2 linked regions of the Homo sapiens genome follow. The protein of the gene in region 1 interacts with the protein of each later gene in a biochemical or structural test. Each region holds a gene or a part of one and is shown in the gene's direction. Other genes may lie near its edges.

What was found.
Region 2: the proteins of GFI1 (region 1) and ARIH2 form a complex in vitro, tested with the Homo sapiens proteins (one study listed by BioGRID).

What each region holds. Positions count from the first base shown.
Region 1 is NC_000001.11:92,472,535-92,476,957, reverse strand, and holds the end of GFI1 (zinc finger protein Gfi-1), read left to right. Parts: intron 1-750; coding exon 751-929; 3' UTR 930-3,915; downstream 3,916-4,423. UniProt on the Homo sapiens protein: Transcription repressor essential for hematopoiesis. Functions in a cell-context and development-specific manner. Binds to 5'-TAAATCAC[AT]GCA-3' in the promoter region of a large number of genes.
Region 2 is NC_000003.12:48,963,842-48,970,881, forward strand, and holds part of ARIH2 (E3 ubiquitin-protein ligase ARIH2), read left to right. Parts: intron 1-1,077; coding exon 1,078-1,141; intron 1,142-3,283; coding exon 3,284-3,434; intron 3,435-4,219; exon of another isoform or gene 4,220-4,336; intron 4,337-4,692; coding exon 4,693-4,814; intron 4,815-6,753; coding exon 6,754-6,863; exon of another isoform or gene 6,864-7,000; intron 7,001-7,040.

The sequences.
Region 1 (4,423 bases):
AATTTGTGGTGAAGAATTGCTGGTATATAAAGAATCATGTGATTAACCCCATAAAATTAAGGAAAAATCAAGACAGTAAAGTATCAGCTGCCTTAATCCTTTGTGGCCCAAATGTGGATTTTTAAAATAAGATATTGAAAAACGTATCCTGCACATGTACCCCGGAACTTAGAAAGAAAGAGAGAGAGAGAGAGAAATAAAGAAAGAAAGAAAGTCCATGTTAAGATGTTTTTTCAGATATAATCTGCTGTCCTTCAAGAACAAGAAAGAAGACGGGCTCACTGATCCATACAAACTAACACCCACTTGGAAATTCAGATTTGAAAACTTCCTCTGAATTAGAACGGAGTCACACGGTTTTAGGACAGCTTCCCCCTCCCCTTCCTGTTGAACATCTGCTCTGAGTGTTCATGGCTTATAAAGTCAGGGGAGTCCTCCCGGGGTAGATTCAGCTGGGGAGGGCACGTGGCCTTTGCTCTGTTTCCGTTTAGCAGGAAACCGTTTGAGGCCTTTGGCTGGGAACCCCCCTTCAGAAAGTCTCCCTTTCACCTGGTGCCCCCATGGTGCTTCCAGGGACTCGCATTGCAGGCTGGGAGTCAGTTCAGGTTGCAACACGTCACCCTCCAAGTTGCTTGAAGGCCTTAGACTGTGGTGCAACCAGCTGCTGCCAAGAGCATGTGGGTCACAGTGGGTCCCCTCTAGCTTTATCATAGACTCATACTTTCTCCCCTCCCCCTCCCATCCCCACAGGTGAGAAGCCTCACAAGTGCCAGGTGTGCGGCAAGGCATTCAGCCAGAGCTCCAACCTCATCACCCACAGCCGCAAACACACAGGCTTCAAGCCCTTCGGCTGCGACCTCTGTGGGAAGGGTTTCCAGAGGAAGGTGGACCTCCGAAGGCACCGGGAGACGCAGCATGGGCTCAAATGAGCACCCTGGCTGGCTGCAAGCAGCAGCTACACAACACTACAGAGGGCAGCCTCCCTGCTTGCCACCACTCTGCTCCCTGCTTGCCTCCACTCCCTTCTGACTTTCCAGACCCCAGGTCCAGTCTGCAGATCCTACCAGGTTGCTCCTCCTTCGCCTTACCTCCTGGAGCTGCCAGAAGAAATGAGGTACCTTTTCAAAGTGCAGCCGAGAGTGAGAACCAAGTGACTCTCTAGGCTTCGGACACAAATAGGCTCCTCTACACCTGAAGACAAAGGCAAAGTCAAATGGGGACCAGAATAAATCTTAGACCCCACAGTCCTTCCCATTTCCAGCCCTAATCTACAGACAGGAATGCCCTTCAGGTTTCTTCCCTCCCCCCTCTTGACCTACCCCAGATATTTGTGTGGAAGAGGAGGAATCACCATTTACAAGGTGGACAAATGCTAATATTTTTATCTAGAAAGAAGAGTGAGTGTTAACTTTTATTTTTTTCCTTCTGGGGGGTCTGTTGACTCCTTTCTTTTGGGTGCTGCCTATAAATCTTGGAGGAATCATTTCTCCTCCTCAAAAACTGATTCAGAAACTGACTTGGGGAAGGAATTTAATACTTTGAAGTCATGAGATGCACCATCGAGGCTACCCCCAAGAAGAAGCAGAAGAGAAGTTGGTAATGAGAGGGGATTAGAGGTCCTCCCTTCAGTAGGGCTGTGAAAACCTCATCACTGGAGGTAAAAGCACAAGCAATGCCTGTGGACAAGATGTCATTCATTCACTCAGCAAATGTTCATGGATCACCGGCTACCAAGGTACCAGGCACCATGCTAGGTATTGGGGAAGAGAGACTGAAGTCACAACCCCTGACTGCTCCTCAAAAGCTAACGGTTGCACCTCCAAGTGGCTGGGTCTGTTCTTACTCTTGGAGGGAATTCTGAGAAGACAGCACAGAATTGTAAACCTTCCCTTTTGACCCTTTTGGATTTTATCAGGTGTAAACAAAAAGCTGAACAGTTACTTCAAAGATATGTGTGTATATTCAGTTTTTTATTGTTAAGCTGATATTTTAAAGATTTCTGAGCTAGCAGGCATGTGGGAAGGAAGGCTCTGTCTTCAACTCTTTGACCCTCCATGTGTACCATAGAGGGGGGAAAGGTGGTATTTTCACTTTGATGAGGTTGGTAAATGTTTTTAGATCTTCTGGTAAGCATTATGTTTGTTAATACATATTTATTAGAGTGATGTTTTAAGTTAATAAAGTATTAAGAGTATTACAGATTGCCTTTCCTTTAGGCAGGGAATTTGGGGAAGACCTTTGTTTTAGTCTGTAGGGGGAAAGCTGGCACTGAAGGAAACTGCAATGGAGTATAAAAGTGAAGCACACAAGCTAATATCCAGAAGAGTAAAATCCAATTGCTCGGGTTTCCATATACTTTCTCCTTTGCTGCTACACCTCAGAGATACTTCTTTCATCTTCTTTCATAAGAGAAAAACTAGGAGGTGTACAAAACTAAGCTACTACCTTGTAGAGCCCCTGATGGTTCCACAGGCACGTAAGTAAGCTCTTTCCTCTGAAAATGTCAACATATTTTTTTAGGGGCCTGAAGGCTCCCAGATGAATAAAGAAATCACAGGTCTTAGGTCTAGGTTTTAGTTTTAGTCACAGCTCTGTCACCAACACATCATGTGACTTGTGTAAATCTTTTGACTTCCCCGATACTGGTTTCCTTGATCAAGTAATACGGAGACAGCTCTGTCATTCCTGTCCAACCCTGACCGCTTTGATTCTGTGGAGACTGGAAAGGAAAAAAAGTGTGAGATTGGTTAGCTGCCTCCCCTAATGCAAGTCACAAATCTAAAGGCCCATGAGGATCTGGGTTATTTCTGGTTCTGTCCCACCTGTGGGAGTTTTTTGCATAAGTCAATCCTTTAAGAGAATGAAACCAGAATAAAATCCTGGCCAAAATCCCTACTACTAGTGCTTTAACACCTCCCAGCCAGACATTCAGGGTATGCATGCCCCATGGTGAGAACCAGCAGATTGCCCATTTCCAACTCAAATTGATTTCACACATATAATTGAGCACCCAGTATGTGCTGGGCATTCTTCTAGGGGGTGGAGATATAGCAGTGAGGACAATGTCTTACGAAGCTTTATTTATTCATTGTTGAATCCTCAGTTCCCAGAATAGTGCCTGGCACACAGTAGGAGATTAATAAATATTTACTGAGATGTTAAGTGAATAAACAGAAAATAAGCTCCTGCTTCATCCTAGGGCCTGGCTCTGCTCTCTACAGCACAAAGGGAAGAGAGATTGCTTGACAGCCTGGGAAACAAATAGAATCCACACGACTTTCTCTCCAGGTTGGCAGGAAAGGGGGGCTTGAATGCTGCTTTTCTCTGGTTTCTCCAAATCTCAGTCCTTGGCTGTCCTCACCTGATTTCCAGCACCATGTCTTTCCATGTCAGTTTACTCTCATTCAGAATTTAAATTCGTTTACTCTGTAATGGAGTTTAAGATAGTTTTTCAGAACTGATGGATGATGAACAGTTGCAGCGTCCAGGAACCACTTCCTAGTGTCCTGGGAGACAATCCTCCCAGTGAATGAAAATGACAAAAACATCCTTCCCACAGAAGTCACCCTGTGTACTGGTTGGTTATTTCCAACCTGGTTTGAAAAGTAAAGAAGTTGCACTGAGGGGTAAGTAGAACTGATTGAAATCTAGGTGCCTGTGCTGTCCTGCTCTTCCCTTATGACGTTTAGAACATTTGGTCCATTTTTGTTATCCCTGTTTATGCTCTAAGTGAGGAATTGTAATTTTGATGTTAACTGTATGCCTTTTTTTTTTTTTTTTGGTAAAAAATGTATCTTGATATCCCCAGTTCAGAATCAAAACAAATTACTGTGCCTGTTACCGTGTGAAATTTGAAGATTGCAAATATCTCTCTTAATGTTATTACTTGACTCCATTAAAAATAGATTGTGAATATTCCATGTCACATTATTCATGAGGCAGGCTCTATGCCTTTTGTCTGCTGGAGTAACAGTAGAAAGGGTAACAAGAGACACCAGAGCACACCTTTGTTTCTTTCACTAAATTTTTAATAACACCTCCAGCTAGCCAGTTGGTGAAGCTCAGCTCTTGCATAAAAGTGGAAAAGCACAGCTATCTCTGAGAAGACCAACTCTTTCAGCGCTAATTTGAGTTTGCGTTCATCTACACCAGACGTGATTAAATTACCTATCAAGTGTGCTGAGCTATCAGGATTCAGGCCACGTAAAAGGTGAATTTCATCTGATTGATTTGAGACACGGATGGAACAATTGAGTTTTAAAAGCCCCGCCTTAATTAAAGGGATAGAAGAGTATCACTCCCCGGCGACTTCTTGACTGCCATTGCCCTTGAAAACTGGGTGGTGATAGTGATTTGACCCAAGTCACTTTGTTGTGTGCCTGTTTGTTCAACCTGATCATTTCACAGAAAGAAATGAACTCAG
Region 2 (7,040 bases), on another chromosome or scaffold:
CATTTGTGCTGCCTCCTCCTTTGAAATGCCTGTTAAGTCTTCTCCCCATTTTTTATTGAGTTATTTTGTTATTCCAAATGGATCCTTCCCCCTTCTCCCATGTCCAGTTCCTAGAACCAAATGGATTTTTAGGAGTTTTGTTTACTCTGAATACTGATCCTTTGCCAGTTATTTTTTTTATTTTTATTTTTATTTTTATTTTTTTTAAAGACAGAGTCTTGCTCTGTCTCCCAGGCTGGAGTGCAGTAGTGCAGTCTCTGCTCACTGCAACCTCCACCTCCCAGGTTCAAGCGATCCTCCTGCTTCAGTCTCCCAAGTAGCTGGGATTACAGGCATGAGCCAACACTCCCGGATAGGGTTTCACCATATTGGCCAGGTTGGTCTCAAACTCCTGACCTCAAGTGATTTACCCACCTCGGCCTCCCAAAGTGCTGAGACTACAGGTGTGAGCCACTGCGCCCAGCCATATATATAGAATTTTTTTTTTTTTTTGAGACAGAATCTCGCTCTGTCTTGCAGGCTGGAGTGCAATGGCACAATCTCAGCTCACTGCAACCTCTGCCTCCCGGGTTCGAACGATTCTCTTGCCTCAGGCTCCCAAGTAGCTGGGACTATAGGCACGTGCCACCATGCCCAGCTAATTTTTGTATTTTTAGTAGAGACGGGTTTCACCATCTTGGCCAGGCTGGTCTCAAACTCCTGACCTCAAGTGATCTGCCCGCCTCGGCCTCCCAAAGTGCTGGGATTGCAGGAGTAAGCCACTGCGCCTGGCCTAGAAGTTTATATATTGAATTATCTTCCAGCTTATGGCTTGGCTTTTGACTTTGGTGTCTTCTGATGAATTGAGGTTCTTAAATGTAGCATGATTTATTGGGCTTTATATTTTTTATTATTCCTTTATATTTTGCATTTTCTGTCTTGAGAAAAAAAGTCTTTGTACTGAGATAAAAGGAAGCTTAGTTCTGTGAGAAAGTAGAGACAAAGATGCTCTAAACATCTTTCTCTGTCCTGTTATTGTTCAGGGGTAAAAATGTCTTTAGCTTCTGATTGCCTTCATTTCTGCTTTTTGTTTTGTAGATACAAGTCCAATTCTGCTCAACTGCTTGTTGAGGCTCGAGTTCAGCCTAATCCATCAAAACATGTGAGTGTCTATTACTTGAATGAGGCTTCTCCTAATTGCATGTGGTTCTTGCTTTGGCTTGCAGTGTCCTTAAGAGCTATCTTTACTTGGCTGGGTGCGGTGTGGCTCACGCCTGTAATCCCAGCACTTTGGGAGGCTGAGGCGGGTGGATTACGAGGTCAGGAGATCGAGACCATCCTGGCTAACACGGTGAAACCCTGTCTCTACTAAAAATACAAAAAAAAAAAATTAGCCGGATGTGGTGGCAGGCACCTGTAGTCCCAGCTACTCGGGAGGCTAAGGCAGGAGAAAGGCGTGAACCCGGGAGGCGGAGCTTGCAGTGAGCCAAGATCATGCCACTGCACTCCAACCTGGGCGACAGAGCGAGACTCTGTCTCAAAAAAAAAAGGAGCTCTCTTTGCTTTGTTTATAGTTCAACATGCCCACAATATTTGTTCTAGTATTGACTTAAATCTTCTGTTATGGTTTGAAAAGTTTCCTTATAGATAGGGACTAAGTCATTGCCTGTCCTTGGGCCCTCTCCAGCCCCACTTTCCTCTCTGCACTTTCAGCCTGCACTCCATTCCTTCTGGGTGCTTTGGTGTGTCTGAGATTACTGCATATGTCTTCTGTTTGTGCCTTCCCTTCCTAGAATGTTCAGACTCTGGCTCCACCTTTGCTTATAGGGAGGGAATTCACCTTTAAAGACCCCAGTCCGGCCAGGCACGGTGGCTCACGCCCATAATCCCAGCACTTTGGGGGGCCGAGGCGGGCGGATCACTTGAGGTCAGGAGCTTGAGACCAGCCTGGCCAACATGGTGAAACCCCATCTCTACTAAAAATACAAAAATTAGCCAGGCCTGGTGGCGCATGCCTGTAATCCTAGCTACTTGGGAGGCTGAGGCAGGAGAACTGGTTGAACCCGGGAGGTGGAGGTTGCAGTGAGCCAAGATCGCACCCCTGCATGCACTCCAGCCTGGGCGACAGACACTCCATCAGAAGAAAAAAAAAATCTAAGCCACCTCTGACAAAGCCTGTCTCCTGGATCATTCCCCTGGAAACTCACCTAATTATATCTATAAACTTTTACATGTGTGTTATAGTGATTAACTCATATCATTTTACCACCCCTACCATAGAAGCTGTATTTTAACAATGCATAGCAATTTCCTGTTTATCTAGGAGCTAAACGAACATATGTCGAATATTTTTTGAATGAGGGCCATGCTAAAATAGATCTTGGAAGGCAGAATTGGGGCTCAGATCACCACATAATTTCTGCAGCCTCTTAAGACAAAGGTTTCCAGAAGCAAAATGGATAAACATGAGAATCCAGTTCTTTTTCTCAACTTGTTTTTTTATATTCCCAGTTAACTAAAAAGAACCTAATGTTCTTGTAAGTGGACTTTTCCATTGGTTTGTGGTTTTAGCCAAGGTCCCCAGATTGTCTTTCTCTGCCAGTTTGTGTAGCATGATGTGGATTCTGGAGTTCATGCTATACAGTTATTTGCACACATTCTAGAAGAGTTTCTTCCCCTAGTTGGTGTCTCCACATCCCCCCCGCCAATATTAATTACATGTGACATCTGGTGTATTAAGGATGAGTTGTAACTTGGTAAAGGCTGTAGTATTTTGTGGTTTGGGTACGTCGATATAGTGAAACCACTGTCCTTGACAAGTAAAACTACAGTGTTGGCTGTTAGAAGATTTATAAACTCATCCTCTAATAACCTTTGTGACTAGGTTTCTAGTAGTTGTGAGGGGCAACTCTGCTGTGCTTAACAGGGGTAGTCTACAAAAGAAACCTGATAGCTTCTAAAAGAATTTGGACTAAGTGACTTCTAAGGACCTTGGCAATTCTGAAACCCTGAGTTTTTCAGTCTGCCATTATAAACCACTGTAAGTTCTCATTTCAGCCTTGTTTCTGCCTCTGAATCCTGGTGATTTTGCAAGCCCAGCCCAGCTGCCACCTCCTTCAGGAAGCCTTCCTGGTATATACTTTTAGCTTAGTACCCTTGGGACTCAGAGTCCACACATTGCAGTTGAGCTCTGATACTTGTTGCAGGGTGAGGATCACTTTCCATGCACCCGGCTGCATGAGGTACCCTTATGGCCTTCTGGACCTGACTCCTCTTTGGCTCATGTGGCTCTGTTTCTCTCCAGGTTCCCACATCCCATCCCCCTCACCACTGTGCAGTGTGTATGCAGTTTGTGCGAAAGGAAAACCTACTCTCTCTGGCCTGTCAGCACCAGTTTTGCCGCAGCTGCTGGGAGCAGCACTGCTCAGTTCTCGTCAAGGACGGCGTGGGCGTGGGTGAGTCTGCCACAAAACTTATAAAAAGCTGGCATGAAGTGTTTATCTTTGACTCTGCCTTTTCATGTACTCAAGTAAACTGAGTATTTTCTTCTGAGCCTGATTGGGGTTTTTATCATCAGAACTAGTGATTTTCAAATACATCCATACAAACAGTGACAAAGTTTTCCCCAGTCCTCAGCAAAACGAGAAAACTAAATATACTGTTGTAAATGTTGGCGTGAGTGCAGAGCTACCTTCTCTCACCTTTTGGGAGAACGATCCTTTAAGCTGCCTACCTTGATTCCACAAGTGGCAGCCATAACTCAGAAATGCCCACAAGAGTTTGCTGCTATTTAGGTAACATAGCACAAATCAAATTTGATGATTAGTTACAGAAGTATTTGTTATACTGTGATTTGATGATACTGAAACACATTAGCATCGCATTAATTGATATCTGCAAAGTCCCACAATTGGTGATAATCACCTCTAAATAATGTTAAACATCACAAAACTCAATTGTTAGTCAAGAACCTATATAAGGATTTTTTAAATGGTTTTGTTATTTAATGGTGCCGTTAGTGATACAATTTGGGATAATATTTTAGTTTCATTGCTGTGAAAATATGCTAATTTCTCTCTTCTCTTTGAATAAATTCTGTTGCTTGAAGAGTTTCTTTTATGCAACTTGGATTTGTTGACAGAACTAGGTGGGCAAGTTGTGTCTTCTGCAGTATGCTTGTCCATCACTTTTTTGGGTTTGTTTTTTTTTTGTTTGTTTGTTTGTTTGTTTTTTGAGACAGTTTCGCTCTTGTTGCCCAGGCTGGAGTACAATTGCATGATCTCAGCTCACCACAACCACTGCCTCCCGGGTTCAAGCGATTCTCCTGCCTCAGCCTCCTGAGTAGTTGGGATTACAGGCATGTGCCACCACACCTGGCTAATTTTTTTTTTTTTTTTTTTTTTTTGAGACGGAGTCTCGCTCTGTCGCCCAGGCTGGAGTGCAGTGGCGGGATCTCGGCTCACTGCAAGCTCCGCCTCCCGGGTTCACGCCATTCTCCTGCCCCAGCCTCCCAAGTAGCTGGGACTACAGGCGCCCGCCACTACGCCCGGCTAATTTTTTGTGTTTTTAGTAGAGACTGGGTTTCTCCATATTGGTCAGACTGGTCTCGAACTCCCGACCTCAGGTGATCTGCCTGCCTTGGCCTCCCAAAGTGCTGGGATTACAGGCATGAGCTATCGCACCTGGCCCCATCAGGTTGTTTTTGTTCAACAGGAGTCTCTTGCATGGCTCAGGACTGTCCACTCCGTACACCAGAGGACTTTGTGTTTCCATTGCTTCCCAATGAAGAATTGAGAGAGAAATACAGGCGCTACCTCTTCAGGGACTATGTGGAGGTATGGCCAGCCTTTGTTCTGCCCTCTGTCTTCCCGGGCCTACCTTCCATCAGAGGGTCACCACAGTTACTTACTTTGTAGACTAGGCTGACATTAAGTGATAGTGTTCAAAGAAAGCGCTCCATGGCTTTAAAAAAAGTTTGAAAACCACTGGAGTGATAGTGAAGAGTACAGGCCTTAGAATCAGACACACCATTGTGTGAAACTTGGATACTTCCTTTCTTTGTGACCACTCTTTTTTTTGCGTGTGTGACTGCCTTGCTGTGTTGCCTGGCTGGAGTGCAGTGGCGCAATCTTGGCTCACTGCAACCTCCGCCTCCCAGGTTTAAGCGATTCTCCTGCCTCAGCCTCCCGAGTAGCTGGGACTACAGGCATGCACCACCACTCGCAGCTAATTTTTGTATTTTTAGTAGAGACGGGGTTTCACCAGGATGATCTTGATCTCTTGACCTCATGATCTGCCCCCCTCGGCCTCCCAAAGTGCTGGGATTACAGGCGTGAGCCACTGCACCCAGCCTCTTTCTTTTTTTTTTTTTTTTTAACCTCTGAGTCTTGATTTTCTCTTCCATAGACAGACCTCCCCACCTTATACATAGTTGCTTAAAGAAGCTATTGTGTGTCAGCAGGTGAATACAAATTAGGCATATTTAGGAGCTGCTGTTAGATTCAGTTTCCTGTGTGGTTGAGCAGAGAGAAGGGGTATTGCTTTTTGAGTAATTGGAAAACTTGTCCAGGATTCAGCGTGGTCACTTTTGGAGTCCTTTCCCTCTATTAGGCCATCTGCTAGGCCTGCTGATTCCATGCAATATAATTTTCTTTTCTTTTTCTTTTTCTTCTTTTTTTTTTTTGGAGACAGGGTTTTACTCTGTCATCCAGGCTGGAGTATAGAGGCACAAACATGGCTCACTGCAGCCTCTGACCTCCCAGGCTCAAGCAATCCTCCCACCTTAGCCTCCCGAGCAACTGGGACTACTGGCGCGCACCACCAAACCCAGCTAATTTTTGTATTTTTCGTAAAGATGGGTGTTTCACCATCTTGCCCAGGCTGGTCTCGAACTTCTGAGCTCAAGCCATTCACCCGATGCAGCATAACTTTCATCTTTGTCTTTTTTGCCTAAGCTTTTCAGATTAATTTATGGTCTGGGTCTTGTCATGCACATGCCGCAGGATAAACAGAAGGCCTTGTTCTTTATGCTGTTTGCTGCCTTTGAGGGTCATTGAGCTCCTCAGATATATGTTTTTTTTTTTTTTTTGAGATGGAGTCTCACTCTGTCACCGAGGCCGGAGTACAGGGACACGATCTCAGCTCAATGCAACCTCTATCTCCCAGGTTCAAGCGATTCTGCAGCCTCAGCCTCCTGAGTAGCTGAGGTTACAAGCTCGCGCCACCACACCCAACTAATTTTTGTGTTTTTTAGTAGAGACAGGGTTTCACCATGTTGGCCAGGCTGGTCTCAAACTCCTGACCTCAGGTGATCCACCTGCCTCGGCCTCCCAAAGTGCTGGGATTACAGGCATGAGCCACCGCGCCCGGCCTTGTTATTTTTTATTTTTTTCAGAGACAGAGTTTCACTGTCATCCAGGCTGGAATGCATCGGTGCAATCAGCTCACTGCAGCCTGAAATTTCAGGCCTCAAGCAGTCTTCCCACCTCAGCCTCCTGAGTAGCTAGGACTATAGGCAGGAGCCACTATGCCTGGTGCAATTCTATATAAACTTAGATCATTCCAGTGAGTTGCTACCTGGTTTAAGCTAAACGTTCTAAATTCCTCTTTAATATCTGGCTTACGTTTGGTCTTCACATCCTTTCTGAATTTATATAGCCCCTTCGTATAAGTCATCAGCTGGGAGAACAGAAAGTGTTTGAATATTCAGGGGGTTCTGATTTTTAGACAGCAACTAAGAGATGTCCTCATTGTTTCCTCTTGGTGTGTTCACAGAGTCATTACCAGCTCCAGCTGTGCCCTGGTGCAGACTGCCCCATGGTTATTCGGGTACAGGAGCCTAGAGCTCGCCGAGTACAGTGCAATCGGTGCAACGAGGTCTTCTGGTAAGAGTGAGTGTGAGTGCTGAGCAGCCCTGGGCTCATGCCCCATCCTCCAAAGCACCACTGCTGTTGCTCCATGTGAGGGCGGCACTGGAAGAGGCAGGGTCTCTGAGCCAACAGAACAGCTGTGCTCCAAGTGGGTAGGTTTATGTCCAGCATCTCATATTCCACTAGGTCTTC